Linked DNA regions of Homo sapiens: regions 1, 2, 3, 5 and 6 are each linked to region 4. The links come from fine-mapping of genetic effects on plasma protein levels. A gene starts in region 4. Each other region holds a variant in brackets. All regions are shown on one strand. Distances are between the middles of the regions.

Region 1 (5,541 bases), 230 kb after region 4:
CTGGGATGATACATTTCTGAAAACTACGGTTTATAATAGAAAATGAAACTATTCATATTAAGCCAGTTATACCAGCAGCATGTCCTGATAGCCACAAAGTTGAAGGAAACTATTAAAATGCATAAATTGTCAGAGTTTTCAAGTTCAAACTCCTAAGATGGCATAGCAGTGTGTTAGCTGAGGACACTTGGTTTAATATTTAGCTAAGAAGACATAATTCATCATTCTAAATAGTTATTTTAATTGAGGCTGTTATTATTTATAAAAAGCAATCAAATTTCATTACTTTTTTTTTGTTATGCCATATTGATTATATAACAATGTCAAATTGGGAAATCACATCAGTGATGTGCTATGAGTTTTCAGCTTTATAATACACTCTATTAAGCACAGTAAGACTACTCAGTCATCCACACAGTCATCAACCCAAATCCATTCAAACTTCAAATAAAAATTTTCAGATATTAATGAAACTTCCATCAAAATACAGCTTTATGTAATGTTTCTTTTCTGATTGGCAAAAATAAAAATGAGCATTTGCGTGACTACAGACACACAACAAAAATTCTCAGAAAACAACAATCTATGGTCCCTTATACTTCTTGATATGTGAACAGTGTTTTATATTTGTTGGAGATGAATTATTGAGTGCTAAAGGTGGCAGAAGGGGTTGAGAAAAATGTTACCATATCCTAGTGAAGTTAGGTGAAATCTATACCTTTGGAAATTTTTATTTCTGATTAATAGACTACAGCGGATGTTGTGAGATGTTGCTCAGGTACTCCTAGGGTGGAGAAATTCTCAGAAACTAAAGTTTTGGCAGCTGATGGCATTTCACTGGGCCCCTTTTCTGTAATCACCCTCAGCTACAGCGCCACTTTATCCAAGGTCATGCCCCCATCCTAACTGGAAAGGCCATATCAGCTCCTGGGATTCCTGTGTGACTCACTGAAGCCTCTGTTGTGAGTACATCATAGTTCAACTTATTCTTCTACCTAGTTTTATATCCTTTACTTCCCCACAGTTATTGAATCCAATGGCAATAACGTCCCGCAAACAAATCCTTGTCCAGGAGACTGTTCCCAGGGAACCAGACCTAAGAAAATTAGTGCCAGGAGTGAACTGAGGAAGTGGTCTCCAAAATGGGATTTGGGAGCTAGATGAGTTGCTGGTTAATTTTCAGTTATTTCATATTCTTCGAAGTAGGTGGGATATTGCTACTCCCTGGCAACCTGCAGCAGTGTAATTATTAACATATTCACTCGTTCTCATTCAGGACAATTTTGCACCCCAAGGGACACCCGGCAATGTCTGGAGAAATTTTGGTTGTCAAAATTGCTGGGCACTACTGGCATCTAGTAGGGTAAAAATCTTACAATGCACAAGACAGGACTCCACAACAAAGAAGACATCCAAAATCCATAGTGTTAAGGTTAAGCCATCCTGACCTATACAATAAAAATTAATGAAGGCTATAGCTCATCAATTAGCTTTGGTTAGCTGCTTCAATGTAAAAGTCATGATCCCTTGCCTAGTCTATACATCTTAGCCAATTTTCAGACCAAAAAAAAAAAAATAAACCACAAGTGACTGAAGCAGCAGCCAGATGTTTATGATGAGGACCTTGTAATACTAAGAGAACTATATAAAGTAATTCATATAATCTTTCCCCAAAGAGATCTATAGGCATTCATTTGAGTAAATTTACACTGGGTAAAGAAGAATACCAAAAATTTCAGATTCTTGGATACAAGGTTCAATTTGACAATGACACTTGGAGACCCAAAGTATCATTATATCCCCATTGTTAAAATGAGAAATAGGAGGACCGCATAATAAGTGGAGTCCTGGGTCCTTATTCCCTGTGGTTATTTCTCAGTCCCTGAGTATATAATTGGAAATAACATATTTAGTATTAGGAACAGGCCTTACTGCATCTTAGTTCCTTGACTTGTAATGTAAGAGCTATTGTAACAAGGAAGGGCAAGTAGAAGCTTCTGAAATCTCTCCCTCCTCTCCTTCAGCTGAAATAGTAAAAAAAGAAAAAGAAGAGGAAGGGAAAGGAGGGGGAGGAGAAGAAGAAAGCATATTAGGTGAGCCAGCAGAGATTATTACCATCCTCAAGAATCTAAAGAAAGTAAAAGATACAGGGGTGATGGCCTCATCAGCAACCCCCTCTAATCACCAGTACAGCCTCTACCCAAACCAGAAAGATGTTATGATTTTGGAGGATGACACTAAGCTACCATAAATAAACCCCAATTGTAGCTTCTGTCCCAGTTGCAGTATTTTTGCAAAAGCAAATTAACACTGCCTTATTTAAATGGTATGCAGCCTCCAATGGATGAAAGCTTTCTTTTCTGTACCTGAAAGAAAAAACAGCATTAAAATTCCAATTTGCTTGGGACAGACAACAGCAGATTTTATAGAATTCTCTCAGTGCTAT[A/G]TTCATTCACCTATTGTCTGTCATAATATATTTCAAAGGGACCTGAAATAGCTGGACATTCTGCAGAACATCACATTGATCCACTGTATCAAGACTAACCAAAGTTCTAACTATATGAAAGGAAACTCAATTAAAATGAATTAATAAATTATAAAAGTAATTTAAGGGGCATTTTAAAAAAATGCAGGGATCCAAAAACAAACAAACACACACAAAAAAGATAAATGATTGCTGAATACTCATTACAGAATCTAAAGTCTCAAATAGACAACCCCGTAGTGATCTATCTCTGTAGGGCATATACATGTAGCATAGAGATTTAAAATCCTAAACATGAATGCTACCAGTCCTCCATTTCAAACTCGGGACAGACAATAGTAATTCAATATGGCAGTTTTTCACAATGAGTACAGGTGCATCTTCTAGGCATTCTCAATAGAGCTACCTACTCCAGTATCTGCTATCCAGGTAGAAACTATTATCTAAATTCAGGTATCTACTATCAATGATTGACTCTATTCTGCAATAAAAAATATATTTTCCATCCCTAGTATAGTGAAAAATTCTATTACCACTCTGTACCTCATTTACTCATCTATAAAAAATGGAGGTTACAATAGCTAAAAAGAGTTGTGGTAAAGCCACATATAGTGCTGTATGTATATATGTGATGACCATTATACAAATAATAGGTACAGAAAATTATTTTTTGTTTATTTATTCATCCACTTACTACTGAGTGGACATTTAATGTGTGTAGGACCCTGTGCTAGAATTTGGTCAAAGAAAGCCTATTTGGATACAGAGACTAATTTTGAAGGAGATACCCTAGTTAAAATATTCCTAAAATAAAGCATTAGTTTATTTAGCAGCTGTGTTTCCAATAGCTCTACTGAAGGAAATCTTACAAAAGTTTTAAAAATGATGGTATATGCCGGGCGTGGTGGCTCACACCTGTAATCCCAGCAATTTGGGAGGCCAAGGCGGCTGGATCACCTGAGGTCAAGAGTTCAAGACCAGCCTGGCTAACATGGTGCAACCCCGTTTCTACTAAAAATACAAAAAATTAGCTGGTCACTGTGGCACGTGCCTGTAATCCCAGCTACTCAGGAGGCTTAGGCAGGAGAATCACTTGAATCCGGGAGGAGAAGATTGCAGTGAGCCGAGATCGTGCCATTGCACTCCAGCCTGGGCAACAAGAGCAAAACTCCATCTCTCTCTCTCTCTCTCTCTATATATATATATATACATACACACACACACACACACACACACATACACACACATATATGTATATATATACATGTATTTACATATATACGTGTGTGTGTGTGTGTGTGTGTATGTATGTATGTATGTAACTAGCAGGGCATGGTGGTGCATGCCTGTAATCCCAGCTACTCGGGAGGTTGAGGCAGGAGAATTGCTTGAACCCAGGAGGCGGAGGTTGTGGTGAATCGAAATCAGGCCACCAAACTCCAGCCTGGGTGACAGAAGGAGACTCCGTCTCCAAAGAAAAAAAAATGATGGTATAGTAGGGCATCCAGACTGGTGATGAAAAACTCTAGAGACAAACAATCTAGCTCTATCATGTACTGATGAGAAAACATGAGAAAATAATGTAGTCTTCCTCATTCTCCTCTGTTAAAAGTGGGAATAATAATAGCATTTAGCCCATAAGTCTGTTTTAAGGATTAAATGAGAATGTGTATATAAAGCATTAGCACATTGATGAGTTAATACTTCATCAATGTTTGTTGCTTCCCTTTTTGTAAGGCTAACTTGAAGACATGGGACATTTTTTTCTGATATTTTGCAAAAATGGTAACTTAAATTATTCCATTTATCATTTTAAAATATAACTACTTGTTTAAAATTTGCAATGAAAGGAATCATTGTTGATAGTAGAGCAGATTACCTTACACAGCTCTTGCCACAATCAAAATAATACCTGGAAATTATTCAAGTTCTTTCAGCAAGGAGCTCAAAACACTTTGGAGACATTATCCCATTTTGGAACCTGCCAACATTTTTATCCACCTCCAGTGCTGACAACATCAACTCCACCCATCCTGTTCCACTTGGCAATGTCAACCTCAGTTTGAACCTTTGAGAGGCAACAGAGGGGCACTCACTTCAACATGAGGATAAATGAGAGCTCGTATTCAAAACCTGGCTCAATAATGCCATAAGTGAATACAGGGGGCACAGCTAGTTACTTGTTAGAAATGTTTTCATGGAAAAAAATACTAATGTAAAAAGCAAATTAAATACATTAATAATTCTGATTGGCATCATATGCTTAGAGGCAAGAGTATCAAAAAAGTCCTATCTTCTTCACAAGCTAGGCTTTAATTTCTTCTTTCACCCCAGGGAGTTTCTTTGTAACTTCAAAACATAGTTTTGGGGTGTAAAAAGATCTAAAATTTTTTAAATTGTGGATCCACTTGCAGAATATGGAGCTGGCAGATGAATAGTTAGACATTCACATCACAGGATAAGGTTTGAATTGACCTACACCCTCAAGCAAAAGAGACTTCACGATTCCTTTAAGCAACCCAGTTATTCATTTAGCCATCATTCTTGGGGTACATTAGTGATTCTAATTGCCACTATAGTTAATTCAATGAAAAAAACTTGACATCAAAATGTATCAGAATTTTCAGAAACCATAATATTTGGGACATTCAAATTATAAGGGCAATGAAATATGCTGAGAACAATCCAAGCAGTAGAGGGGGACTTAGGCATTTAGAGGAAGCTATGCCAATACACAGGACCCCTTTAGGCACCATGGCCAGGGAAGGGGTCCTCCTTGCCCAGGTCTAAGGCGTTTGTTCTAAAACTGATACTTAATCCATTCCTCTACATTCTGTTCTCCCACAGACTTCCTGTTCTTTGGAAATACACATGAACTCATCTTTGATTCCTCTCTTCTTCTCATACCCTATATCAGATCTATCAGCAGATCATGTTCTATCTTTAAAATAATTATTTCTTACTTGGATAACTGCAAGAACATTATAAGCAATCTCTCTACTTCCACTCTTGCCACCTCCTCTGCAAGGCAGAAAGCAGCCTTCCTAATACTTTGA
Region 2 (5,541 bases), 77 kb after region 4:
TTGGGACTTTACATTCTGGAACTTGATTAGTTTTTTCCTCCAGGTGCAGACTCCAGCAAAAATGCAAACACACACAAGCACATTTGTGAAATCCTTAAAATGGCATGTTGTTAACTTTTACTTTTATTTTATACAGAACTTCCAGAATATCAAGTAAAGCAAGAGATCCTTCATCGATCCAAATACCTGGAGAACTCTGATTCATTAGGAGTCATGGACCTATAACAATCACTCTTTTCTCTGCTTTTCTTCTTTCCTCTTTTCTTCTCTCCTCTCCTCTCCTCTCTTCTCCTCTCCTCCCCTCCCCTCTCTGTTTCTTTTTCTTTTTCTTTTCTTTTTTGTGGCGGAGTTTTGCTCTTGTTGCCCAGGCTGCAGTACAATGGCTCAATCTCGGTTCACTGCAACCTCTGCCTCCAAGGTTCAAGTGATTTTCCTGCCTCAGCCTTCCCGAGTAGCTGGGATTACAGGTACCCGCCACCACGCCCAGCTAATTTTTTTGTATTTTTAGTAGAGATGGGGTTTTGCCAAATTGGCCAGGGTGGTCTCAAACTCCTGACCTCAGGTGATCCACCCACCTCGGCCTCCCAAAGTGCTGGGATTACAGGCGTGAGCAACCACGTCAAGACAACAATCACTTTCTTTAAAGCAAATCCTACAGCTGGTCAACACCCTATTCCATCTGTCATCGAGAAAGAAAATGTTAAAATAGACTTAAAAATATTGCTTTGTTACATATAATAATATGGCATGATGATGTTATTTTTTTCTTAATACTCAAGAAAAAATATATGGTGGTATCTTTTACAACACTGGAACAGAAATAAAGTTTCCCTTGAAGGCAAAAAGTGTTATCCCAAGTCACATTTTGCATAATTTGCTTTATGATGAATATAAACACATATCATATTAATTATTTGCATCATAATATGACATAGTTAGCAGTTTTTCTGATCAATTACATAAGTTCCCATTAACTTGCCAAAAAAAGTTAATATATATATCCAGTGTCTGTGTTATTGGTATATTTTCGACCATTTTGAAATCAGTCATTAACGTATTAGCATTGACTTTAAGTTCCTATATATATTTGATTAAATGAAAGCCTTAAAAAATTGGAAGTGACATGTTTGAATTTTGTAATTTGAATACTATTGAATTTTACTTTTTGACCTTGATATCTCATTTTATTCCCATAAAATGTAAAACAACTACACTGGCTGAAAGAAAGTCAATGTGCGCTTCAATAATCATAGATTTTTGTGAATTAAATCTTTCTAGGCTAATTATGAGGAACTTCTGCAATAATAAAGTAACACCATAATTGTTACTTTTTATAATATTCCTATACTGTGACTTTTGGCCTGGTTTGACATCAGAGTATAATTGTGATTAGAAAATTGTAGAAAATATGTTCATTAGTTAGAATTTTAATACATATTTGCTTTTCAACCGCCTGCAATTACACTAGTACCTATTACTCATAATAACCATGAGGTTGTATTATCTATAGTGGCACAGAGGCACAAATATTCAATAACCTGAGGATATCATACTAACCGTGGCATATTTACAATTAAAATTCAAATATTTTCTGCTCATTTGGTCTCATTTCTATTGCTATTCACTACACTTCAGATTAAACTGTCTACATTAAATTAAATTTGGAGTTAACATTTGGCTATGTTTACTCAAAGTAATTGAGAAGCCATCGTTTATCTTTTAAAACAGAGAAGAATAAATTGATGAGTCACAGATGTTTCTCAAGGAGTTCTATATATTCCAGTGGCTAATGCAGAGTATTAACATGAAGAGAATGCAGGGATTTCCTTCTCCAAATCACTGCCATTTAATTTAGGCTTGGTAATGTCTGGGAAAATGCAAACTGTTCTCTGGAAAACTGAGAAAAGAAGTCAAGTTCCTTCTAGAAACATGCTTGTGTTGAGCAGAGAAGGGGAGAACAGAGTGTAAAATGGATGGCTTCCCTAGGAAACAGAATCTTGTCTCTTAGGACAGCAGGAATAAGTAGGCAAAACCACAGAAGGGGGAATCAGCATGAAGCATTTAGGGAACACTAAATAGTCACCTATCTCTAGAGCAGAGAGTCCAAATTGAGAAAGTGTAGGACATACAGCTAGTAAACATCAGGACTAAGACACTGAGATACCAGGCTAAGGAGACACCTATAAAAGTGGAGTGTGGGCCTCATAGGACATGGTCCCCATATTCGTTGTCTTCTTTTACTCTTCAGTCCTCTGGGAAGCCTTTCCTAACATTTTCTTCCCTGTAGTTCAAAGATTCTTGTTCAGTGCTTCCCAGCACCCGGTG[A/C]TCCCCCATCTTAGACTATTACACTTCACTGCCGCAGCTTCGTTTATTATTTTTGCTTAGTAAATTGTAAGCACCCTGATTGAGTCTGTTGGCTCATCTTTGTTTTCTATTCCTTAGCACATAGTGTATGCTCAATAAATAAGTGTTCAGTGACAGAATTGCTTCATTTGGAATCCTACAAAGTGCTGCAAAATAATTTTAAGCAGATTTTTGAATAAAAAAAGTTATGCTAGCAGACATAGAAATGGACTATAAAGGACTAAAACTGATGCTGAAGAGACTGCTTTAAAGTGTAACTAAATTAGTTAGCTAATAAGTATTGGAAGCCTGCACTAATTTATTCATTCAATACTTATTTATCAAGCATATACTATGTATCAGCCACTGTACTAGGAACTGGAGATACAATCCTGAGCACAGTCTTCCAGTAAATTTGAAAAACAAAGTAAACAAGGTAATTTTTGAAAGTGATAGATGCCATAAAGAAGTGAACAGGCTGCAGTGATGGTAGAGTGATGTGAAGAGAAAAATTAGCAGTGATGTGAGAGAATGGAAGGCACTTCACAAATCTCACAATTTAGAATCAATGGAAACTTGGGGTCAGATATTTGTATGAGTTGAGATTGTAAGGATCATGGTAAGAATGAGTGTTGAGTATATTTTGATTTGTGCCATTAGGTAAACCGTGTTGCCAATTAGAAAACTGGCTCATACAAGTGGAACTTGGAATGGGAAAGGGGAATATGCTAGTTATTTTAGGGTCTGTTCCAATTTTCCTCCACCTCTCATACACCCCTAGGAGGCTGACATATATGCAACATAGTCCCCTTTGTCCTCTGGCTTCCATTTGGTTGTCGATAGTGAGAAATGGTAGAAAATGGGGGAGAAATTCTCCTGGACTCCTTGCTGAGATGTCCCCACAGGCTGGCTGTTTCCTTCAATTGTTTCTATCAGTGTGGCCTTTTCTACACACATCTTTCCTGGATGGCAATAAACCTTTCCAGGCCTTCTCCCTGCAGGCTTAGTGGTGTTAACAGCTCAGTCAGTGCCATTCCTGAGTTACTGGACTATGCCTTGAGGTTTTTCAACTACCTACACCTGTATAAAGAGTACCTAAATCAAGCATTCTTAAGAGTCATCCAATTTCAGATAACTTGCAGTTTATTCTAATTGGAGTATCCCATCTGCTTCCTGTTGGTTCCCTGACTGACACTGGTAAATATTTCAAGTTTAGATCAATTGACTTCCTAACACCAGTGACATATCCATGTGGAGTCACCTAATAGTCAACTGGAAAATATGATTTTGGCACTGGTAAGTGGGATCAAGCTAGAACAATTAAATTTCAAGATGTCCAATATCTTCCTTACATCTCTCTCACCCCAGATGAGAAAGCAAATTTACCCTTGTGATTTCTAGGGGGAAAAATGCTGTAGGATAGGATAGCCAGATCACCAGGTGGCACAGATCACAGACCTCCCCGCAGAATAATTTGACCACTGATTAAATTCCCTCCAGAGTAGTCTCTTTCCTAATAAGTTTTTGTACCCCTAGCTGCTTCTGCATATTTACCCACAGCCTCTTTTCCTTCACAGAATCCTTTCCATAAAACCCACAGGTGTTCCTGGGACCCGGGAGTCAGCCGAGCTGTACAAGCTGGAACTCTGCAAGGTGAGTCAGAAAGGTCTCTCTGGAAAGGGCTTTAGGGCAGTAGGAAAACAGGGACTTTGTGGTTACTCCAAAGCTGAGGCTTGCGTCTGTTCCTACTTTTGAATTCCCTGTGAGAGTCCTGAGAAACAGATCTTGGGGTTATTAAAACATGCATCCTTTTTCATTGCCATGTACAGTGAAATGAATACAAATGACTTGAGTGAATAGAATATTTTTTTATTTTTTAGAATAAAAATATTCTAAATTTTTCAAATTGTGAGCTCAACAAATGCAGGAGTCAAATCTGAGTGACTAATGGTCAAACGATGGCACCACCGCTTTAAAGGCAGTGCCGGGTTGGCATGTACCCTGTATGAACCAACAGTGCAATTTTTACATATCCCTGTCTGCTTGCTCTGTTCTTTCACAACGTGTTCCCCCTCAGAACTCTGAGATGAATACCATCTGGGCTGCAATGATTTACTGCACTGGAGTTTCTCAAGTTGTTCCCAAAGTGCCTCTTTGAGGCTTCAATGTCTATTCAGACCACACTGATTGCACCCCAAAACTTAGGGTAGTAGAATTGGTGTTTCCAAAACCTTAGACAAGTCAATTGCAATAAATGTATCTTTAATAAGGGTTTCCATAATACAGTTGTTTATAATCTTGGTTCTACTAAGAAGGAAACATGCCTTTAAAACACAGTGGTTTAAAATTAAATTTTGGCAATATTGTCAGATTCAAATATTTATTTAGGGTGGCAAACAGTCAAACAAAATTACATTAAAATATTTTTGAGATTTCACTTGATTTTTCTAATGTAAGTTACATTGCTGGTTTTGCAGAAGTTACATGACTGGTTTTGCAGAAGGTCATTATATTTTTATAATGGTCAGTATAATTAAATGCTTAGTGAATGCTTAATTCCATGTGTTACATTCTTTTTTTTTTTTTTTGAGACGGAGTCTTGCTCTGTTGCCCAGGCTGGAGTGCAGTGGTGCAATCTTGGCTCACTGCAACCTCCGCCTCCCGGGTTCAAGCGATTCTCCTGCCTCAGCCTCCTGAGTAGCTGGGATTACTTACAGGTGCCCGCCACCACGCCTGGCTAATTTTTGTATTTTTAGTAGAGATGGGGTTTCACCATATTGGCCAGGCTGGTCTCGAACTCCTGACCTCATGATCCACCCACCTCGGCCTCCCAAAGTCCTAGGATTACAAGCTTGAGCCACCACGCCTGGCCACATTCTTTCAATACTTGGAAACAAATGTAATTTTTACTCTTCTGCCTGAAAATTCTAATTTAGTGAGTATTGAAGATACTATGCCTCTTAAGAGTAGCAGAAGGTATTAAAAAGGAAATGTAAACATAAGAAAAGGAGTAGTCATAAATTCAAAGGTGGAACACATATCTACAAACATCACATACTCATTACAATATAATTATTTTAATCAGTGGGATTACAGAAAATAGTAAAAGCAACTAAACTATATAAGATTATTCTACATGCTTTACATACATTATGTAGTTTAAGTCTGACACAAACTCTGTGCCAATTGTCTATTTAC
Region 3 (5,541 bases), 900 kb after region 4:
ACACCAACCTCTTTTCCCACCTACCTCTCATCATCAAACTCATGGTGATAAAGAACAGCAATGCTGTTGAGCAAGATACCATGCATGCAGTGTAAATTGTAACATAAAACTAAAATGTAATAAACAGGGAAAGAAAAACAAAATTCTGACCCTCCAGGAAAAAAAAGTCAGAAAAGATTGCCCTTTTCTCAAATTCTAAAAAATGATCACTTTAACCACTAAATTAGTTTAAACACCACTGACTCCTCCAAAGCCACAAATTTTAAATTTTTCCCCACAAAGCCTTAAAACATTTCATTTTCCTTTGACATTATGCAAGTTACAATAAGATTTCTACTAAAGCAAACAACTGCCCCTGTACTCAACAATCATTTCTTTAAATCTTTTTGAAACCCCCCAAGCTATCAAGAAACTAACCACTAGGTCAACTGGTCTTCATTCATTCCAACACCTGCTGCTGAGTGATAGAATGACTCAAAATTTCTGAACTCTTTTAGAGCTTCACTTTGAGTGGGCTACTACTCACTCCTCAGTAAGGAAACTTGAAAGCCTTAAGTAGCTAAGTTCTCTACTCTAGCCCAGACAGAATCTATGGTAGCTAGTGGAATGAAGGCAACAAAAATGTACTTGACAGCAGAGACCTGGTATTTGGCTGCCTACAGGTTGCCACTTGGGCAAATTTTCAGCTTGTTCCTGTCCAAAGGATGTGCTATTTTCAGGTACTCAATGAAAAATAATCTACATCAGAAAATAATCTGATGAGAACTTTGGCATAAAAACAAAAGGATTCCAAATTTTAAACATATTCATGGCCTTTAATTTTTTTAGTCTTTTTAAAATTTAATTACTTTAAAAAGACAAGAAACACAATAATTACGGGAACAAAAAAGAGTATTTTGAAATTAAGTTTGAGTAATTCTAGAATGGCAGAAGGTAAAATTAGACACAGCTAGTCACCCAAGTGCCTGAGATGTCTTACCATTCCTATGTGATGGTCTTCCTGTGGGCTTTGTTTCCTGGGTAGGAGATCCCTGGAAGCATACAGTGTTTAAATAGATTAATCACAGAGCATCCTGTCTTCATTGTGGTGTACATGTTTCTGGAAGTTACAAAGAGTATTATGCCTGCATTTCATGATGTCCTTTTCTCACCTTATTTCAAATATTCTTCCCAAGAATAAGAGTACAAATAGTACATAGAATTGTTTAAAGAATCCAAATATCTTGACTTTTTCTTTTCAAATCTAATTTTAGGAATGTTACCAATTGTTAATTCATTTAACATCAGGGAGAAAAATAAGTGTAGGGCATAGCCGAATTACCTACAGGGTAGCTTTTACAGTCAGGTGTATACCAAAAAAAGTCACTTTGCTTTCTTCACCTGGAAATATAGGAATGTTATATCATTCCTTTCTAGAAAGAAGAGCAAAGTAACTTTTTACAAAATGTTCCTCGTTATTTAATGTATATGAACACATCTACTAATGATTCTACTGTAACTTTCAAGAGATAGATATTTGTCCCTCTTCCTCATAATCCCAGAGGGAAAAGGTAACTATCATGAAACATTTTTAAAAGCTTTATATATTATATCAATATAAAATAAACCAGTTCCTCCATTATATTAATGGTATCTGGCTTTTCAAGACAGAATTCACTAAGGATGTTGAAAATATAAACCACACACCAAAATGTTAGACTTCCATTTGGAGGCCAAAGCTAACTGGCAAGCCTAATTTGAGTCACACTGTGAAACCCCATTTTCCTAACTTAATTTATCTTGAATTGTTTGTGTGATGGTGTTGTTTGGTTTGCTTTTATGGTGCAATGCACTGGTATCTTCAGCACTGCAGTTTATATGAAAATCCAATGTTCCTCACTTCCATAAAAAACAGTGCAAGGTGATAAAACTAAATTAGGGAAGAGTTATGTTGTTATGACAATGAAACTTTCGAAGAGACTATCAAACTTTGAAAACAGGTCACTGAGAAGAATTAAGAAATACTTTCTTTGGATTTTTTTTAAGTAGATAAGATTCCCATCTCTGTGGGATGGCTCGTATAGGGGGAGCCCACAAACAGTATAATGGACTTTGAATCGCCCAAGTTATTTTCCAAACTTAAAATGGTGCCATGACAGGTCCTCAAACGAACTAAGAGAGCAACTTTCTCAATAAGTAAAAGCAGGATACAGTTCCAGATCATGAAAACTCTGCAATGCTGGTTTTGTGACCTTGACTCAGCGTCACTGGGATGCTACCAAGAAACCACAATTCTTGGCAGCTGCACATTCAATGTACAAATGTTTACCAGATGTGAAGTTCATATGATCTATGCTGTATAATAGAAACAAAAATGAATGTGCTGTGTAATATGACATGCTAGTTCATGCTGTGAGCCAGCAAGCAAGAAAACTGGTCTCATATCTAGACAAAGCCTATGGACTATTTGGAGTAAAGAGAAAACCTCTAAGTCCCACCTCCAATCCCCAATTAAAACAAATCCCATACGCTTGTTAAGCCTGTGGGAAATTCTACTAAGTAAGGTTCCTTTCTTTAGATTAAGCATTCCATCCTTGTTCAATAAAAACCCCCTTGGGAGACATAAATTTTTATCAGTTATTACACTTCAGAGTAAATGAACTTCAGATCCTGTCTTGACAGTTGGTTCTGATATGAAAAATACATGAAGCTTGGTTGTTTAGATTGTAAAAGAAAGAATCATCAAGAGATAAAATTTAATACATATTTTCCCACTACTATTTGTCTGTTTATCCATTCATTCCACAATATGCACAGTCATCTACTATTATTCAGGCAATGTACAAAGCACTGAGGATACACAGATGAGAAAGCCTAGTGATAGCCTCAGCAAGTATAGGGTTTTTGTGAAAAGATATCAAATATATAACTACAATACAATAATAGAGACCTTAATGGAGGTATGTGCTAGGCACTGGGAGCTTGGTGGAGTGAATACCTAGTTCCTGGCTGGCTGAGAGGAAATGGGTACATTCTCTGAGAGGAAGTAAAGTTCATCTGTGAATTAAAGGCAAACCAGGGATTTGCTAGATGACCTTAAGAAGACAGGAAGATAGTACCTGAAAATGCTTAAAATCACTAAAGAACAAGATGTGCTCAGTGAAAAGGTATTTATGAAGTGAACCGCCCATGGAGAGTGGGAAAGGGGTGAGGGGTGAAGGAAATGAATGATGGGGCAGGTACTCAGGAAACAGAGCAGGAACATGGTCTTTTGCATTAAGTGAAGAGGAGTGGACTTTGTCTTTAAAGTTTACTACAGGAGGGATTTTTAGCAGAGA[G/T]AAACATATTCTTGTTCACATTTTAGAAAGCTCACAATGGCAGCAGTAGGGAGAATGGTGTACAGGAAGATGGAAAGTTTATGGCAGCAGTCAAATGAGAGGCAGTAAGGGCCTGAAGGACAGTGAGAGCAGAAAGTGATTTGAGAGGCATTCAGGAGTTAAAACGGGCCAGGTCCTATGACTGTTTGATTGCAGTGGACAGGAGAAAGAGAATGACCCCAGCCTCTGGCTTGAACGTCTTGTAGATAGTGATGTCTTTCCCTGAAAGAATTCAGGAAATATAAACCAAATTTTCCTGCTAGAGGGTAGAGGAGAAGAAATATAAAGCATCTTAGTTTTTAGAAAATTAAGCACAAATTTCATGTATGGACATGAAATGGTTCATACATGAAATTTGTGCTTAATTTTCTAAAAAAGTATGGACAGATGAAAATGCTTACTTGACAGGTGAATATATAGACCCCCTGTGTGCCAGGATTTGAGTAATGGGGAGATGCAACTGACGCTAAGCAGAGTGAGTGGACATGGATTCTGGTCTGGCTTACTGTTTGCTTTTGAGTGTCAAGGGTGAGATTTTTAGTCCATTAAAACTCCTTGTATGGAATAAAACAAATGACTAAAGTACAAGAATAACTAAGTAATTGCTGGTTCATCCATATGATGGAGTACTACAGAGGCATAAAATTCAAATGTTCCAAGAATACTTAATGACAATTTTAAAAATATCAATAAAAGAACAAATGCAAAAAAATGCAAAACTATATAGTAAGCTAATTATGTGATATTATATCTCTTTCATAGAAATGTCAAAAATTGTTACTTCCAGATAATAGCATTATGGATATGTAATTTTTATTTTTTGATGCTTTCCAACTTTTCTATAAAGGATATGCATTATTTTGGCTGGGTATGATGGCTCACACCTGGAATCTCAGCACTTTAGAAGGCTGAGGCAGGAGAATTGCTTGAGATCAGGAGTTCAAGCCCAGCCTGGGCAATACAGAGAAACCCTGTCTCTACAAAAAAAAATTTTTTTTAATTAGCTGAGCATGGTGGCTCATGCCTGTAGTCCTGGATACTCAGGAGCCTGAGAGGACAGAACCATTGAGCCCAGGAGTTTGAATTGCACTGCTGCACTTTAGCCTGGCCAATAGAGAGAGACCCTGTCTCAAAAACAACAGAATATGCATTATTTTAAAATCAGAAATAATAAACATATTTTTAAACTTACATATGTTTTAGATAAAGTTAATATCTCGAAAGGAGACTCTGCTCCACCAGCAAAACACATAATTGAATTATCGTACACTAACCACAAGAGGTTAGATTATGCTGAGTAACAAATATATCCAAAAATTGTTGTGCCTTATAACAACAAACATTTATTTTTTGCTCATACTCTACGTCCACTATGAGCTGTCTAGTGGCTCTGCTCCACATTCCTCATTTTAGGATTGAGTCTGAGGAGTATGGTCATTTTCCAAGGTAAGGGTAAAGAGCTCTGGAGGTTCTCACACTGAAAATAAATGTTCCAGTGCAGAAATATATGTTAATTTCCACTCAGCTCGTTGGCCATGAGTATCATGGGGCCAGAAAACGTAATCTGACTGTGTACCTGAAATTTATTTGACAAACAGAACTAATAAGAATCTCCTATAAGTACAAATTCATCCCCTCCACCACCACCACCAGCAGCAACAAAAAACTGGAGGGATTTTTATGGTAGTGTTTTTTAAAATGCAAATCACGATCCATTGGTTGATCTTGAAATCAACTCAGTGGTCTATGACCAACAGTGTTTAATAGAATGGAAGGGAACAGAAAATGTCAGAGCACATTGCATGTACAAAAGGTAAATATTATGATATATTTGGTATACATATTTCGAATAAATACAGATGTGTCACAATGTAAAATTTATTTCTTCCTGTGGGTCCTGTAAAAAAAATTGAAAGTCATTTTTCTATAGGAGTCCCAACTAAGCCAGATATATGGAAACATAACAATTTCCATACTAGGTTTTTCTAGTCCAGTGTCCTATGACTCTGTGAAAGGCTGGGGGAATCTTGTATCAATCTCAAAGAACTCAGTCAACATTTTACTCTTTTTTAATAGTACGGTCTCTCAATGATAAATCAGTCAAGAAATATCATAAAGCAAACTCAATGTTTAGCATCCTTCAAGTGCTAAGAGTATAATTACATTTTATTTCTCCTAAAATAAA
Region 4 (5,541 bases):
AGCCAAGAAACTCATGACCATATGTATGTATTCTTTTCAGAATGTCAATTTTAGGTTGGCTAGAGCTGAACAGACTCCTCCAGACAGTAGCATGCTACAAAAGTTTTAAGTAGACAAATATAGTGGTAATGCAAAGGTGATTGGAGGAAGTCGAATGTCACTGAACAAAAGCTTTAAACAACTTTATGTTCCAAAAAGAAGTGCCCTTGAATATGAAGTTTTTTTCACTGATTTATCATAGAGTTTTATTTAACAATTTTTCTTTTTTCGCTTTTATATGTAGCTTAATTTGCATTCTAGTTTATCCAATTCATGCAACTAGTGTCTGTCCCTCATTTTTGTTTTTGTAGAGTCTTTGATACAAAAGTCTTTTAGTAAATATTACATGTCTTTTGCCAAGGTGTGAGGTCTAGTGCATTTAACTGTCATGAGAATGATACGTTAGCTAAAACAAAATTTATCAAAAAGCAATTACATAAATTTAGGGAATTTTGAATGGGAATTTCAGAGCCTTTGGGATGCTTCAGTAGCAGCTGTGAATGTGCTGGCAAAGCCCAATAAGTAGAGCTGAGGACTACTCATGAAAATTCCCACCGGAGCAGCTGTACTTTCTTCTGTTTCATTTATATATTACAACATTTTACTTGAAATGTAGAATACATTTTAAAATTAGGCACACATTATAATTAGAAACTATCAAAATTGATAATTCTATTTCTACAATGTTCTGATTCAATAGCAGCTTTCATTTAAATAATCGAGAGTATTATTTTCGTAGACATTAAATTTGGGTTTATGAATTTGAGGTTCTATAATTTGCTTGGGGTAAAATTGTGTTATCTTTTTACTAAACTCATTGAAATTCAGTACTTCCTGTGCTATCTTTGTCACTAATAGAAGTTACAGATATTTTTATATAACATTTTATTAGTGGAAGTTCTTTCAAATTAGGATCTGTGATAATCACTACACTGAAACAACAATATTTTTAGACTCACTTAGATCTTGATATTTCCTTCTGCAATGAGGAAGCATATGTATTACTTTATCACAAATTTAAAACATATTTTGACAAGTATATTTTAACATACTTAATTTCCTTTATGATCTTTAAAATTTTTTTTTGCCATGAAAATATTATCCTGAGAAGGAGTCTATACACAAAGAGGACTGATGGCTCAATGAACAGGCATTCAGTGGTAACACAGCTGATATTATTTTGTGTTGGATAAACAGCTATATGACCACAGGTGCTTTCTATACCTATAAGTTATAGACCGAAGCAGCTGTACTTGTCTGGCAAAGATTAGCACCATTCACAGGGTCTTATATTCAGGTTCTGTGGATCACTGCACTCTAGAAAGTCATAACTATATCGCCTTCCTTGAACAGAAAATTATGTTATTCTCTTCCTTTGTTTCATAAGTTTATTTTCCTTGTGGTTGCTCTTCTTAAACTCAGCACTTAGATACATTACTAAGCATGTGGTTTTTGCTGCCCCAAGATCCCTTCAGCTGCTTCTTCTAATACCATAATTTTCCTTCGTGATGCACACCTTCTGCACCATCAGATTCTGTGCTTTGAAAAGGGCCAACTACACTGACAACCTGTATCTATGATACTGGACATGGGGTAAGTTCCTTTTGTAAAATTGATTGGCACTTGACACATCTAGAACTGATGTGACTTAATTCTGCAACTTTAATAGTAAAAGAATGACACTTTCTACCCTGCTTTCTAAGAGAGAAGGATGTTTGCCAAGGGCTTCACAGCCATCTTCCCACCAGAAGGAAATAGCCTTTCTGGGAATAGAACTGGTAGAGAAGAATGCAGGTAAGAGACAGGAGGAAACAAACAACTTAGACCCAGAGAAAACAGTTTAAAACACACCTGAAATTAATTCTTCCCACGGACTCTTCAACTATGGTAGTAACCAACTCTGTCCTAGTTTAAGTCCTTTTAAGTTGGCTTATATCTAAGCTTGTCTTGGTAGAAGTCATTAGGAAAGTTTAGTGACTCAATCCCTTGAAAAGAAGAAAAGATTGATTAATTTTATGATATTATAATCCTTCTATTATGTAATAATTAAGTCAGTGAATGTAATATAATCAATTTTTTTGTGATATAAGCCCCTCATATACATACCTTATATTACAGCAAGAATTAATACAATTGACACATTTTACAAAGGAGTGAATAACTTCCAATGCTAAGTCACTCATCTAGATCTATAGAGAAAAGCAGTGTTATAATTTTTGTTTGTTGGACTCTAGAGTCTGTGTTTTTTCATTATGCCTGCTGAAAACAAAATATAGTATAACTTCTCTACTGGTATAAAATAAACATGAACAATATGCAATCAAAAACTCAATGGTGTAACTGCACAAATACTTCTCTCCCATCCCTATCTCTTCTTAATTTCTTGCCAAAGCAGCATTTTATTTTTTAAGCATTCATTCTAGAAAGGCCTCCAGGTGATTTAGAAATAGAAGTCTCATGACACCCCAAGAAAGATGATGTGCTGTAGGTTTACATGAGGAAGGGCGTAGCCAAACCAAGGCATAAGATAAATAAGTCCCTTCATTGAAACTAGGAAAAAAAATAGTTGTCAAGTGATGCACACAAATGTAGATGATTATCTTTCCAGTGGAACATAGAATTTCTGCATCACTGAGAAGAGTATGTTTTTTACACTGTAGCTGTACTTGGAAGGTATCAGATACTGTAGCTGAAGTGGCATAATTTTTAAGCATACTGGGGTTTGTGGCACATGTAATACAACATTCTTTGTTTGGGAAGCAGCTTCCCAGTATGTTTGAGTTATATCAGGCTAATTCTAGTAGAACTTCGATTTTGCATACATTTTCCAGGGCTATTATGCGTTTTTAGCTTTTCTATATCCTCAAATGACATGAAATTGCCTTAATGAGGCTAATTAAACAAGTGGAGACTGAGTATGCTCAAGTGTCTTTGAAAATTTTGGGTCATATTTGGGAGGCTTTTACGTAGTGTTGTATTTTAGTTAAGGAAAATAAACCTTTTTCATGAACGTGCAGATTATGTATCATTTCTCTTAGTATTTGGCTCATGGGCTTTCTTAGAGGCATAATATCCTAATATTCAAGACCAGCACCCTCAGGAGAATAATCGAATTTGAATATAATTAGAACAGTTCACAACTTAGGAAACACTGGGGAGGAAATGATGATATAGGAAGCTGACTTGAATTGGTAATGCCTTTAGGAAGCAAACACAGAGGCTGAAGCCTTATTCTGGACAGTTACTCTTAAGAAAGTTGTCAGAAGAAACGCATCTGCCTTTTTTTCCAGGTGAACTGCCGTGAGTTGTCCAGCATGATAGTGTTTATTTTCTTGGGTAAGTGAATGGTGCTTCTGGTTTATCTGAATTATTCATAATACTAATTCTTTGTAAACTGAATACCATCACACTTAAGCTTAACAGGGGCTTATAATATGAAGTACCAAGTAAATTACAAATTTATGCTTTAACATGGTTTATTCTTCTTGCAAAAATGTACACTCACTTTTACTCACTTATTTCTAACTCTATAGATAATGCAGCATGTGAAAATTGTATTAATCTCTCAGCTTGTTTCTGTTTTATTGTATAGAATGACCCAATGACTTTGAGTTACTTATTAGGATTAATGGAATTCACACATGTGTTAGAACCTTTTAGAAATAAAAATAAAACCTTCCAGTATCTATTTACAAGTTATAAGATGAAAAATTTCAAACTGTTATCTATTTTATTTATTTTGCTTTGAAATTAAACAAAAATAAGATTAATTTAAAACATTCAATTTACCTACAGTGTTAATATTTGCTAACTAGAAGTAATTTAGTGAAGTAAAACCACTTAACACCATATCAGAATGCTTCATATTTTCATTAATTTTTATGACCTAGAACTCAAGTGTGGACTTACTTCTCTTGTATTGGATCCGATGAATGTATTATAAGATGTTGATGAAAAATAATTTATTTTTATTTAATGTAGAATCCATGAATCTATTTGCTAGATGTGTGACTGGAGAATATTTTATATCTTCTTTAGCATTTGGTAGAATCTATAAACTGAATTCAGAAAAGGAATAATTGTAACTGTAGCTAGATTGTAATTTTAAAAATATGGCATTTTATGTTTAAGCTAATATATACTTGAATAAAGGCATAATTATGGGCCAGAAAGCAAAGAAGTTTACTTTAAATTGTATCGAACATAAAAGGAGAGTCATATCAAGTCAAGGAAACAAGTTAAGAAGGAGAGAAATCCCTTATATTTTCAGTTTTTCTTTTGTTTAAGTAATATTTTTCCATTGTTCCATAATTTTGCTTTTTGTAATTATTCCTAAAATATTTTCTTATTTTTATAAAGATTGTTAATATTTCTTTAGTTCTTTTTTGTGATAAAGAGAAATATAGGAAACTTTAATTTTTATAGATCAGGCAGCAATATAATGAAGCTCACAAAATACATTACAGACTCATTATGACCTCAGTTGAAAAGGCAATGGCCTCTTATTTTCATCTTTTACTTCTAAATTAACTTGACACCAGGTTGCATGAAGGAGGGAAATAACTTCTTAACATTGTTAGAACTAAAATTATACTATTTGATATGTTGTACCAACATTTCCCATATTATATTTTTTAGAATGCTTGTTTGACATTATCTAAATAGGTCTTATAATGAGGAAAATGTCTGTTGGTAAAGAAATGTGGAAAACAATGAATTTTAAAATCTCAGAACATTTAGTAGGATAATAAGCCCCATACATCTTTAAAACACTGATATAATTTGCAGCATTATCCATCTTATTAATTTAAAAATAGAAGTTATTTTTCATTGAGTATTACAGGAAAATTCTTGAAAAATCCTAGGTTAAATACAAAACCACAAGTCATAGTTTGGAATGAATAAGACAGATTTTGGAGAGGTAATACATTCTTGATTCTTGTGGACCAAATCATTGAGGTGGTTTTCTTAGTTGAGTCAATATTTTGTTGAGTAGGAAGTGTGGAAAATCCTATAAAATAATCTATTAAGAAGCTTGTTCAACCAAAAACTGAAAATGTGAAAGGAAGTAAAACATTAAAAACTGAAAATGTGAAAGGAAGTAAAACATATTTGGGGAAGACAACATGTAGTATTTCTAAGTGATTATTACTCTGAAGTACTGATGAAGTTTTGATGATATATCTGGGATATTATCACTTATAAGATTCTTGAAGGGGCTTTTCACAAGATATAATGATTAATGGCAAATAAAATACCATTTTCTTATAAGTTGAGTTTATGACTTCAAATTTCTATTTCTGGGTCTTTGGAAAACTGGATTTGACCAAGTAAATTTGTGCTAGGATCAAAAGAGTCCTCTTTTTCTTTCTTTGGGCTAGCCAAATAAGGAGTACAAGGGCTTGGCTAGATGAGGTTGTCCATGAACACATGAGAAAACAGAAAGCTGATATGTCCATTTCCACTCCAGCCCTCAGCAAGAAAAATGTTACCAAGCTACAC
Region 5 (5,541 bases), 120 kb after region 4:
ACTTTACCCATTCAACTCACCAAATCTTTATTGAGACATTCATTGTTTTGCACACAAAACTCCACTACTTTGGGAGAAGGAAGAAATATTTAAGAGACAAAACACTTGCCACCAGCAGTAACGCCAGCTTACATTATTGGTTCCTCACTAAGTGCTGGATGCTGTTATTAACAAATTATGTGTATTAATTCACAATTCTCCCCAAAATCCATGAAGTAGATACTCTTGTATCATCCCCAGTTCTCAGAAAGAAAACTCAGGTACAGAGGGAATAAACAATTTACCCAAGGTCACTATCTGGTAGGTGAAATCTTCTGTCTCCAGGGAATCTACACTCTGCTTTGATTTATAGCCTCTGGAAACATGAGATTTGGTACATGATTATGCACTTGGGGATATCAGAGGTGGAAGAGCTCTCTGTGTACCGGAGAAGTTATGGAAGACATGAGTACAACAGGGTCTGAGAAGGGCCCCGGAGTTCAAATGTTAATAATATGAGAAGAACAGAGGCAGGCATGCCATTCCTCTGTGAAAGGTAACAATTCGGTAATCAGAAGATACAGTAAAGCCTAATCCGATTCTTCACTCTTGGGCATTAAAGAAAAAGTAACATGATCACATTTAAAATGAGAAGCACCTGGAAGCAGAGCTCTTTCCAACCAACTATATCATGTTTCTCAATCACAGGTTACTGCTACATTCCCTGAGTTTTTGACTCAGAAGGTCTGGGCTGCGACTTGAGAATTTTAAATTTTGACAAGATTCTGACAGCTGCTGCTCATGTGGGAATCTCTTTCTCCCTTCCTTCCTGCCTTCCTTCCCTTCTTTACTTTTTTGATAAACTTTTAATTTTAAAATAGTTTTTGATTTTCACAAAATTTGTGAAGATAAAACAGAATTCCTATATATTGCACACTCAGTTTTCTCTATGGTTAACATCTGTTACAGAAAACATTATTCAATGATACTTATTAAAGCACAGCAAGGATGAATTTATTTAGGAACATTGCAGTAGGTACAGGGACCACATGCAATGCAGGAGAGAGAGACTGTGCTGAAATCCAAATACAGCATGGGCAAGTGAGAATTTATAGCCAAGGAGTGGGGTGGGGGTCAGTGGATTAAAAATTACTAGGAGAAAACATCAGGAGTGAAAGGAATTCTGGCTAAACTGACCTACCAGGATTTTTGCAGAAGACAGGATAGGGTGATCAGACATGACCTTCGGGTTGGTAGAGGAGGAGAGACCTAATCAGATCGGGCATTTGGATATTGACTATAGGGGTTCTTGTTAAGCTAATTTAGTAGGAATTGCTAAAACTGGATTTTACAAGGAAATGAAGAGGTGGGCTTAGGAGAAGTTTTAGAAATCTGACTGAAGTTTGGCTTCTTTGTCAGATCTTATTATGGTATATTTGTCATAACTAAAGAACACATGTTGGCAAGTTTTTATTAAAATCCATGCAATATTTAGATTTCTTTAGACTTTTAAAATGACATTTCTAAAGACATTTTTAAACTGGTGTCTTTTATCTGTTCTGGGAGCTCACCAGTATACCACATTAGTAGTCAGGTATCCTTAGCCTCCTATGGGCTGTGACAGTTTCTCCGAACTATTTTGAGTAGTATAAGTCATGTTTTTGTTTTGTTTTATTTTGTTTTTTTGAGATGGAGTCTTGCTCGGTTAGCCAGGCTGGAGTGCAGTGGTGTTATCTCGGCCCACTGCAACCTCTGCTTCCTGGGTTCAAGCGATTCTCTTGCCTCAGCCTCCTGAGTAGCTGGGATTATAGGTGCGCACAATCACACCTGGCTAATTTTTGTGTTTTTAGTAGAGACAGGGTTTCACTATGTTGGCCAGGCTGGCCTCAAACTCCTAACCTCAAGTGATCCCCCCTCCTCAGCCTCCCAAAGTGCTCGTCATGTATTTTGTACATTGTCCTTCAACTTGGGTTTGTCTAAGTTTTTCTCCTGTTAAGACTGGAGTTATAGAGTTTTGGGAGAAGACCACAGAGGTAAAGTGTCATCCTGAAAGCATTATATCAAGGATATATAATATCAATATAAATTATGACGGCTGGTATTAACTTTTCTTGTCTGGCTGAGGTGGTGTCTGCCAGGTATCTGCACTATAAAGTCTCCCCACAGTCTTTCTGTATTGTACGTTTTGGAAAAATGTCACTATGCGTAGCTCACACTTAAAGAATGGGGAGTATCTACACAAAAATTTTGAATTCTTCTGTATGGAAAATTTGTCCATTCTCATTTATTTACTTATTCTAACATGTATTTATATTAGGGAGGACTCATAGCTAATTATAGGTAATTATTTTGCACTTTGGGTTATAACGTAATACCAATTTATGTCTTTTGTTGCTCAAACTGTTCAACATTTGGCCATTGGGAGCTCTCTCACTTGGCTCCTGTGTCCTTTAGGCATGCCAAAGGGAC[T/G]GTGGGTTTTCAACCACTTGCCTAGAGTTTCCTTTGCAAGACTGAAAAGGATACTTACAAAATCTCACAAAGGAAGAACTACAGTCCTTAAAAAGCCTTAGAATTCTTTGGGACCTAAGGAAAGTTTACAAAGGATAGACTGTTTCTCTACCTCCATTTCTTCTTCTTATACTCTCCAACATGAGAAGGTCTCTATTGCTTTCTTTCCATTACCACAACATTTCTCACATAATGATCTGACAAGCTTAGTCATATTCAGCAGTAAAATACTGGTACCTTTAGGACAATTTTCATTTACTATGAATCAAAGCAGTAAGAATGGGGAATTATACTTTAGAAGTGAAATTTGTGGCATTGTTCAGTACTTGGAAAAGACAAATATTAAGATGTTGACCCGTCTCTGGGAGTCTGCCATGATATAAACAGGCAGGGGCATTTCTTTACTTATAGGTTAAAACTGATCTATTCAGTGGATCTGAATGTATCAGTTTAGGAGTCAGAAATTTCCATTATTCTCAATCCTGTCAACCCATTGGAATCACCTGGAGCCCTTTTCAAATGACTAATGTCTAAGCTTCTCCCTAAATTAATCAAACCAGAATCATCTCTGTCCTAGAATCTCCTCTTATCCAGTGATTCTCAAATCCCTAAAGTAGAGTTTCTTATCTATCTCACCCTTTATCAATCCGGGGTATGGGTCAGCTTTAACTTTAGAGAAACTTTGTACCCTGGGGCAGCAAACAGTTAACCAGGACTGGTCAGCATTTCAAGAAAAGCAGGTTTTGAAAAAATACCCAAAAAAGTATAAAGTAGCAAAAGTCAGAGGAATCAGCCGGATAGATGAGAAATGGCTTCAGCCCGAAATGTGGATGATTCACTTCTGGGATCTGGAATCCACGTATCATGTTCCTTTTCTCGCTACTGAGGATCAAGACCCTGCAACTACAGGAGTCCCAGAAGGGAAACTTGTTACCTTGTCAAAACAACAGTTTTTAGTCTTAATTGGCCTTTTGGGAAAGAGTGAGGAAACAACAGTCATTCTTCTATTTTGTAACTAAAGGCCAATGTAACCTATTGCTTGGGCAAGAGTGAAAGATTTATTTACAATAGAGAAACCAGTATTACCACAGAGGAACAATAAATGACCAATGTCACACTAGAGCAAATATAAATAACCAGTGAAGCCAAAAAAAAAAAAGTTCAACCTCACATTAAATCAAAGATTGTGCGTGAAAACTGTAACACTGTATTTTATACTTTCAGACTGACAACAATTAAAAAAGAATACTGGCATTGAAATAGTATAATATAGAGCTCAAATATATAAAACACTCTACAACTTCAACAACATGGACTAATTTCACAAACACAAGGTTGCTTGAAAAAAGTCAGGCTCAAAAGAAGACATACGTCATTTCATTTAGATAAAGTCCTAAAATAGACCACACTAATCAAAGCAGTGAGAGGTTAATAATTATCTTTGAAGTGTGAATATAAATAGACACAAGGAGAGCTTCGAGGGTGCTGGTAATAAATTTCTTGAACTGAGTTGATTACATTGATAGTATCAGTTTGTGAAAATTCATTGAGCTTATAATTTGTACACATTTCCATATATACATTATAGTTCAATAAATATCAATGACAAAGGGAGTGTTATTGGAACTGAAGGTAAACAGTCAAACCTAAATGAGTAGGAATATACAGTTAATTGGAATTCTTTGGGTGAGCAATTATTTAGTAATAAGTCTTCACTCGTCAATATTCTTTGTCCCAACAGTTCCTTATCAAAGAGTCCTTTCTAGAAATATTTAACAAATCCTAGAAAATAACTAGATAAAAATAAATACATATGGGTGACGTATATTGTATCTTGGTTTTGTATAGGATATATAACACACACACATATATCTATATAAAGACTCATCACAGTATGTTTTTTAAGAATGAAAATTTGAGAACCATCCAAATGTCTCACAATGGAGAATAGCTTTATGGTGTAGCTAGAAAACAAAATGATGATGCTATTTAACTGCATGATTAAGGGAAAAACAGGTTAGAAGATGTTATAACAGTACATAGAGTCATGACACAATTTTCTAAAAGCAAAAAGGATTTGGGAGATATATAAAGTGCTAATGGTAATGATCATGGGTGCTATGATTACAGATAAATTATTTTACTTTAATTCTGTTTTCCAATGCCTCCACAATGAATGTTAATTACCTACCTAAGTAGAAAAAGTAAAATATAAAAGTTTTTGGAAATTTTAACCTGTAGTAAAATGACTGTAAATAAGTGAAAATGAATGTAAATAAATCCAAGACTGAATTTATTCATATTTTGCAATAATGGATCTTTCTAGGATCTAAGACTACAGGACTAATCTGCAAACATACTCTGGCGAAGGCAGACATAATCTGAGTAAAAGAGGACTTGTAAAATGGTCTTTCTGATTTTCTAGTACCAGATTAGCTCTAGACACAGATTCTCTTTCAGTAAGCTCTATTCACAAATTAATTGACTCAGTTCTAAATGCAATATGTGGATTTAAAGTTTAAGCAATTTTAAAGAGTTTATTCAAGGATATATGACCTATAAAGGAGAATATTAAGGCATCAATTCCCTTTAAAGTCTCTCTTTTTAAAAAAATCACAGTACTTTAAAAATATTTTAATACAATTTCCCCTAAATTCTCTACTTTATTAAGTGTGTAATTTTCTTCTCAGAAATAAAAATTTTCTCAATGATACTGTTATCCTTATACTAAATTATATGCTCGTTTTTCTAAACGAGCTGCTTTGGAAATTTCTAGTCATAATCTTCTAAGAAAATTTTATTTCACTATGTATGTTTTCTTCACATCTACTACCTTATTTCATCAGAAATAATTTTAATATGATGTAAACAAGCTCTGAAAAAAACTAGGAAGAAAAACATTATTTCTTTTTATTATTAGTTCTTTATTATAAAGAGTGGAAAGACATTTTTACTTAACCATTGAAATCATATCATTGTGTGTTTGAAAATAATAGACAGGCCACTTAGCTAATTTTCCTATATGAGAGACTTTCGGCATTAAAGGATTACTCT
Region 6 (5,541 bases), 480 kb after region 4:
TATCTTCCTTCTTCTTTAAATGAAGATTAAAAGAAGATTAAATGAATATTCTCTAAATGAAAATTAAAGTAATTTCTACCTCAAAAATCTATTGCAAGGATAAAAGAATACACAAATAAAAATGATATACAAATTACTATAATTGCTACTTTCTTAACAAACTACATGTATAGTGTGTAAATGTATATGAGTTGTATGCATTATTCTTGCATCCAACTCATTATAGTCAGAAGTGATTTATGCAATTACAAATGTAAAAGTTATTTAACAACCTGTACTTAGAAACTTTGGAAATAGAAATTTATTCATCTTCTTTAACTTTAGGAATATTTTTGATACATAATCCATAATAAAACCACCTCTCAGTTCTACTGGAGAAAAAAATGGGTTGAAAACTTATAAAAAATAAGTAAAATCATTTATATAATCAAGAAGAAGAGATAAGAAAAGGAATATTAACCCTGGTTGTGGTTGTGGTTTCAATTACATGAATATATGTATATGTGTGTATGCATGCATATATTATATACATATATATATGGAGAGAGAAAGAGAGAGAAAAAGGATACTTAACCAAGAGGATAGCCACATATTTTTTATATTCAAAGAGAAACAAAAAGGAGAAACCAATAGGATAGCCACTCTACTATCTAATCATGAAGCACTTAAACCTGGTCCAGAAAAGCTTTAAGAAATTATCTAGAAGCTACACAGACAAATTTTAGAGGAAAGGATGCCACACTACTTTATTTTCATAAAGTACAAAACTTGTAGTCCACAACGACATCTCCACTTTTCCCAAAGCTTCTATTATTATAACTATTTCACTTTCTTCCATCTCCTTTTTTCCTTGAATAGCTTATCAAGTCCAATAAAAATATAATGATGGCCACCCAAGGAGAAAGCATACATCTCTCTCTGGGTATTTGTCATAAATACCATCATATTATTCAAGAGACTACAAATTAATAATGGTAAATTCTAGAGTTTATAAGGTTCAAAGTTTCCCTCATCAGCAGCTTTTAGCTTATATGGGCTAGAATTTGAATTGGGTTTCAATTCAAATTGATCAATGTTTTCAAATGGTAAATCGCTTTTTTTCCCCAAAATAAATGTGGGATTATACAATTCTATAAATCTTACTAACCATTAATTTTCAGAATATCTAATTCCATGCTGCATTTAAAAGGTACAGATGAAAACTGGTAAAATAGTAATATTAGATGCAATTGAATGAAAAGCATGGCAGAAATGAAAAAAAGTTGGAATCTCACTAAGAAAATTTAATCACTTTTCACTGAGCAGAATTTTTTTAATTGCCAAGACATTTTTAATATTTAGTAGGTTTCCTGGCATTACATCATCTCACATTTTTCCCCTGCAGAGAAATTTAAACATGTGCTACCAGGTATACACCCAGGAGGTCCCCTCATTCAACAAGCAAAAAGGACATGAGGCTATTACACAGACAGTTCAACCATTTTTCATGCAGTGAATGAGCAATGTACCCAGTACAAACTCCTAAGAGCTCTTTCATCTTATGAGTCTTATGATCCAAAATATTAAATGGTCAAAGCAAAATTCACTGACATATTAGCTTATGGCACAAACTATTTCCACTTTAGGTTTATATCTTAAATCTTCAAATAGAGCAAGATTTCTCAACCTTGGTACCAAGGACATTTTGGATCAAAGCACTCTGTGAGGCAGAGGAGCTGTCCTGTCCATTTTAGAAGGTTTAGCAGCATTCCTACCCACATTACTACTCCAGCATATCTACGCACTAAATGCTAGTAACAATACACACACATACCTGCCCCCTATCAATTGTGGATGACAAAATAAAGTGTTTCCATACATTGCTAAATGTCTCCTAGGGACCAAAATCACCCCAGGTAAGAACCTCTAAAATAGAGCATGATCCCCACACACTGAAGATATGCAAGCTATGCTTGTGTACCGTTCTAGACACTTTAGAAACATAATCTCCCATCTGAGTGTCCTGTTCTGGCACCCTGCTCTCAAGAGCCCAGGAAATCTTCCTGAGTGGAAAATGTCAGAGTACCTTCTGAAGTATGTCCGCAGAAGAATCACAAATCTTAGAGAAGAAGGAGGCAGGGGGAGATGATGTAAATATGAAGCTGACTGTGAACTGGAATGATGACAGCTTAACTATATATATCCAAGTACTGAAGGTGGCTAATGACATCGAGCAGGCTAGCTTAAAATGTTTTCACAATGGAGTACAGAAATTTATATTCATAGCAGAGCATTAGGAAAAGGTTGATTCTACATAGCACATTTTCTTTAGGGAATACATAAATATATATATTTGTGAAAAAATTAATTCAAGTAAAGCACTTAGCACAGCGCCAGACACATGGTGAGTGTCCATTAAATGTGTAAGTGCTGGATGCTATTCTTATTAGTAGTAACACTGGCATTGATCATTTTATTGTATTAATTTAATTCATTATACGCTTGAACTTTTTTATACACTTAAACATTTTAGTGCTTAGGAACATTTCTTCTGGCATACACCTCTGCCCTCTCTCTCTCTGTCTCTCTCTCTCTCCCTCCTTCCCTCTCTCTTTCTCCCTCTCTCTCTCTTTCTCTCTCTCTCTCCCTATTCTTTCCCCATTTGTTGTTTTGCCTATGGAAACTTCCTACTCTTCTTGAAAAGTTCAGCTCAATAGTGAACTCCTCTCAGAGGCTTTCCCTAAGGTCCCTTA[C/T]CCTTCCAAGTAAAAAATTAACTTTCTCTTCATTTCTATTTCCACAACACTTAGTGCATATTTACATCATCGTTCTTAGCACATTGTATTATAGTTATTAAAGTCTGTGTGTGGCAGCCCCACCACAGTCCCTGGCCTCCAGGCTATGAGCTTCTGAGGCCCTATTTACTCGGCCTTATGTCCTCTGTGCTTGCCACATGGTAGACGCTCAACAAAAGCACTCCAAGCTCAGCTGAATTATCTGGAAAATTCAATCATGTGGAAACCTCCTTTCCCAATAATGCCAGATATATGAGGTGTGACTATAGAGCAATGCCTTCTATATAGAATTTGGGGCTGTCAGCCTTATATGAAAAGATTAAATAAGTGAAATGATGCAAAGTGTGTTAACTTTTTACCAAGTAAAATATAGATTTGGATAAGTATCAGAACACTCCTTTAAATTACACACATTTAAATATGAGTAGGGATAAATTGGGAAGGTGGGAGAAATGGTAGGAATAAAATATATAATTTTAAGAGCTATAAGTCTCACTAAGATAAATAAATAAGAAAAGAGGTGACATAATGGATCTACCATATTTTAAATTTGATTGCATAACACTGTCAAATAATTCATAGATTAGATGGTTAATAGGTCAGACTGTGTCTTGAATATAAAACATATCCATAAAACATCAGTCCAAATTACTGTACAGATCTCCCTTACCCAGCCAGTCCTAGGCAGTATCTTAGGGAAAGGAAACTTTACATATGTGAAAACATATATGCATTGTCAAATAAATTACATTAAAGAGTACAGTCTGCCCTGACTTTTCAATTGTTTCTGAGTTTAACTGAAAATACGAAGTAGATAAAACCCACAACTTTGACACAGAAGTTTTGAGAGGTGACTCTGCTTTAAAAATAGCCAGAGGTACTAGTTCCTTTTTCTACTTCCACTTTAGTTCTTTAAGAAGTATATGAAGCCACAAATAATCAATAGTTAAAACAATTAATAGGATTTTAAAATTACTTTTCAAATTGAAATTCCATTTTAACTGTGATCATGTGATATGTAAATAAAGTATTTTTAATGCAATACTTGTCTCAGAGAATTAAAGTCAAAGTTCCAAAGTTGTGGTAACTATTTTCCAAAAAATATTTACTCTTCTCAGAGAATTCTCAGAGAATTAAAGTCAAAGTTCCAAAGCAGTGGTAAATTTTTTCGAAAAATAAAAAAGATACTATTTATCTTCATTTCCTATGAGAAAAAAATACCTTCCATGGCTTAAGAAAAAATGAGAGCAACTGATTTTTAAATCCTAGTGTTTTTTGTTTTGTTTTGTTTTGATTTTTTACTCTCTATACCTGGCAGAAGTTGGGAATGCTATTTTGTAAAGATGTGTGTAGCATAAAATCATTTCATTACCTTTTTTCTCTCAACTATAATTATTCACATTGCTGTTTATACCAATAATGTTCATCATAAAAATTTTAAAAACACAGAAAGTGTTGAAGAATTAAAATGTAAATTACCCACAGCCTGCAATGAATATTTGATGGGTTCCTTCAATCTGTTTTATATATAAATTTATTTAAAATAGTATAATAATGTATATAATAATGTTTCTTGGTTTGGGTCAATTAACATTATTATTTGAGCATTTTTCAGTGTTAGTAAATAGTTTTCAAAAATGTAATTTGGCCGGGCGCGGTGGCTCACACCTGTAATCCCAGCACTTTTGGGGGCCGAGGCGGGCGGATCACGAGGTCAGGAGACTGAAACCATCCTGGCTAACGGTGAAACCCCGTCTCTACTAAAAATACAAAAAATTAGCCAGGCGTGGTGGCAGGCGCCTGTAGTCCCAGCTACTAGGGAGGCTGAGGCAGGAGAACAGCGTGAACCAGGGAGACGGAGCTTGCAGTGAGCAGAGATTGCGCCACTGCACTCCAGCCTGGATGAAAGAGCGAGACACCGTCTCAAAAAAAAAAAAAAAGGTAATATGTGTTTTCTCTGTGCTATTTTTCCAAAAATTATACCTTAACTTTTTTCTTGTTTAATTATGTTCAATTTGTGAATTGTAAGCAATAATACAGCGATAAACACTTTTACATGAATCCGTCTACATCTGTCTATATCTGCAATGTTTCTGTAAGATAAATTCATAAATAAGAGCTCTCTCATCCCACACTACCCTTTCCCCATACTTCTCAAATGTATTTTAAAGAGTTTGACTATTTATCTAAAACTTGTGTTTTCAGCTATTATTCACAGAAAGATTCAATGATATTGCTATTAAATTGGGTGGCATTTATTTTATTATTACACTTCAAAACCTACCGATTTATTTTTCATATATTAAATTATGTAATAAAACTAATTATTTATTAAATAAAGACACCTAGAACATTTTACTTACTTTATCTTTACATAAAGGTAGGTGTCAGAAAACTGTACCTACTGTTATTATAATAAAAAACAATTTTTTGCCATTATGTATATAGTTCTGTAAACTAACATAGATGCTCATATGAAGTTATATGAAAATATATTGATGAATGTATTTATTATCAACTATGATCTTTGCATTGGGATATGCATTAGCCCTTCCCACATCATCTGAAATTATTTTTCTTGATCTGAAATACTTTTTCATCTGTTTTTTATTTTTTCAGATTTGCAAACTGAGACTCCAAGAAATATAGAAATTTCCCTATTTGGGAATTTCAAGTCTATGCTCTTATGGCACTATATTATTATTTTCTGTGGTGACTTTAAAGTCCTTCATAGAAACCTGAAATATTCTATAAGACATATCGCTATTTC

Direction of the effects. Alleles are on the strand shown, and positions count from the first base shown. The strength of an association depends on the size of the effect and on how common the allele is.
In carriers of allele G in region 1, the plasma level of the protein whose gene starts at base 3,268 in region 4 tends to be lower than with A alone (moderate association).
With allele A in place of C in region 2, the plasma level of the protein whose gene starts at base 3,268 in region 4 is higher (strong association).
For the plasma level of the protein whose gene starts at base 3,268 in region 4, G is the low allele of the variant in region 3 and T is the other (moderate association).
As copies of T replace G in region 5, the plasma level of the protein whose gene starts at base 3,268 in region 4 goes up (moderate association).
In carriers of allele T in region 6, the plasma level of the protein whose gene starts at base 3,268 in region 4 tends to be higher than with C alone (moderate association).

What was found. A credible set is the group of variants that fine-mapping cannot tell apart. PIP is the chance, under the fine-mapping model, that this variant and not a neighbour inherited with it causes the effect. The UK Biobank Pharma Proteomics Project read protein levels with antibody pairs (Olink). The fine-mapping took linkage between variants from a reference panel, not from the people measured, so its PIPs are less certain.
Region 1: its variant is the best candidate, but not a certain one, in a credible set for the plasma level of the GFRAL protein (UK Biobank, PIP 0.59).
Region 2: its variant is the best candidate, but not a certain one, in a credible set for the plasma level of the GFRAL protein (UK Biobank, PIP 0.67).
Region 3: its variant is the best candidate, but not a certain one, in a credible set for the plasma level of the GFRAL protein (UK Biobank, PIP 0.71).
Region 5: its variant is the best candidate, but not a certain one, in a credible set for the plasma level of the GFRAL protein (UK Biobank, PIP 0.90).
Region 6: its variant is the best candidate, but not a certain one, in a credible set for the plasma level of the GFRAL protein (UK Biobank, PIP 0.75).

What each region holds. Positions count from the first base shown.
Region 1 is chr6:55,549,482-55,555,022 of GRCh38, forward strand. The region is part of intron 1 of HMGCLL1 (3-hydroxy-3-methylglutaryl-CoA lyase like 1); the gene reads right to left. Among named protein-coding and RNA genes, the nearest start is that of HMGCLL1, 27 kb to the right of the region's middle. The variant A/G (reference allele first, on the strand shown) is at 2,447.
Region 2 is chr6:55,401,654-55,407,194 of GRCh38, forward strand. It overlaps GFRAL (GDNF family receptor alpha like), which reads left to right. Exons shown (of 9, transcript NM_207410.2): 9 at 137-840. The coding sequence ends at 200. Among named protein-coding and RNA genes, the nearest start is that of GFRAL, 77 kb to the left of the region's middle. The variant A/C (reference allele first, on the strand shown) is at 2,326.
Region 3 is chr6:56,224,881-56,230,421 of GRCh38, forward strand. The region is part of intron 1 of COL21A1 (collagen type XXI alpha 1 chain); the gene reads right to left. Among named protein-coding and RNA genes, the nearest start is that of COL21A1, 20 kb to the right of the region's middle. The variant G/T (reference allele first, on the strand shown) is at 3,318.
Region 4 is chr6:55,324,202-55,329,742 of GRCh38, forward strand. It overlaps GFRAL (GDNF family receptor alpha like), which reads left to right and starts at 3,268. Exons shown (of 9, transcript NM_207410.2): 1 at 3,268-3,375. The coding sequence starts at 3,354.
Region 5 is chr6:55,440,044-55,445,584 of GRCh38, forward strand. The region is part of intron 7 of HMGCLL1 (3-hydroxy-3-methylglutaryl-CoA lyase like 1); the gene reads right to left. Among named protein-coding and RNA genes, the nearest start is that of GFRAL, 120 kb to the left of the region's middle. The variant T/G (reference allele first, on the strand shown) is at 2,449.
Region 6 is chr6:55,809,091-55,814,631 of GRCh38, forward strand. All of the region lies in intron 2 of BMP5 (bone morphogenetic protein 5), which reads right to left. Among named protein-coding and RNA genes, the nearest start is that of BMP5, 64 kb to the right of the region's middle. The variant C/T (reference allele first, on the strand shown) is at 2,733.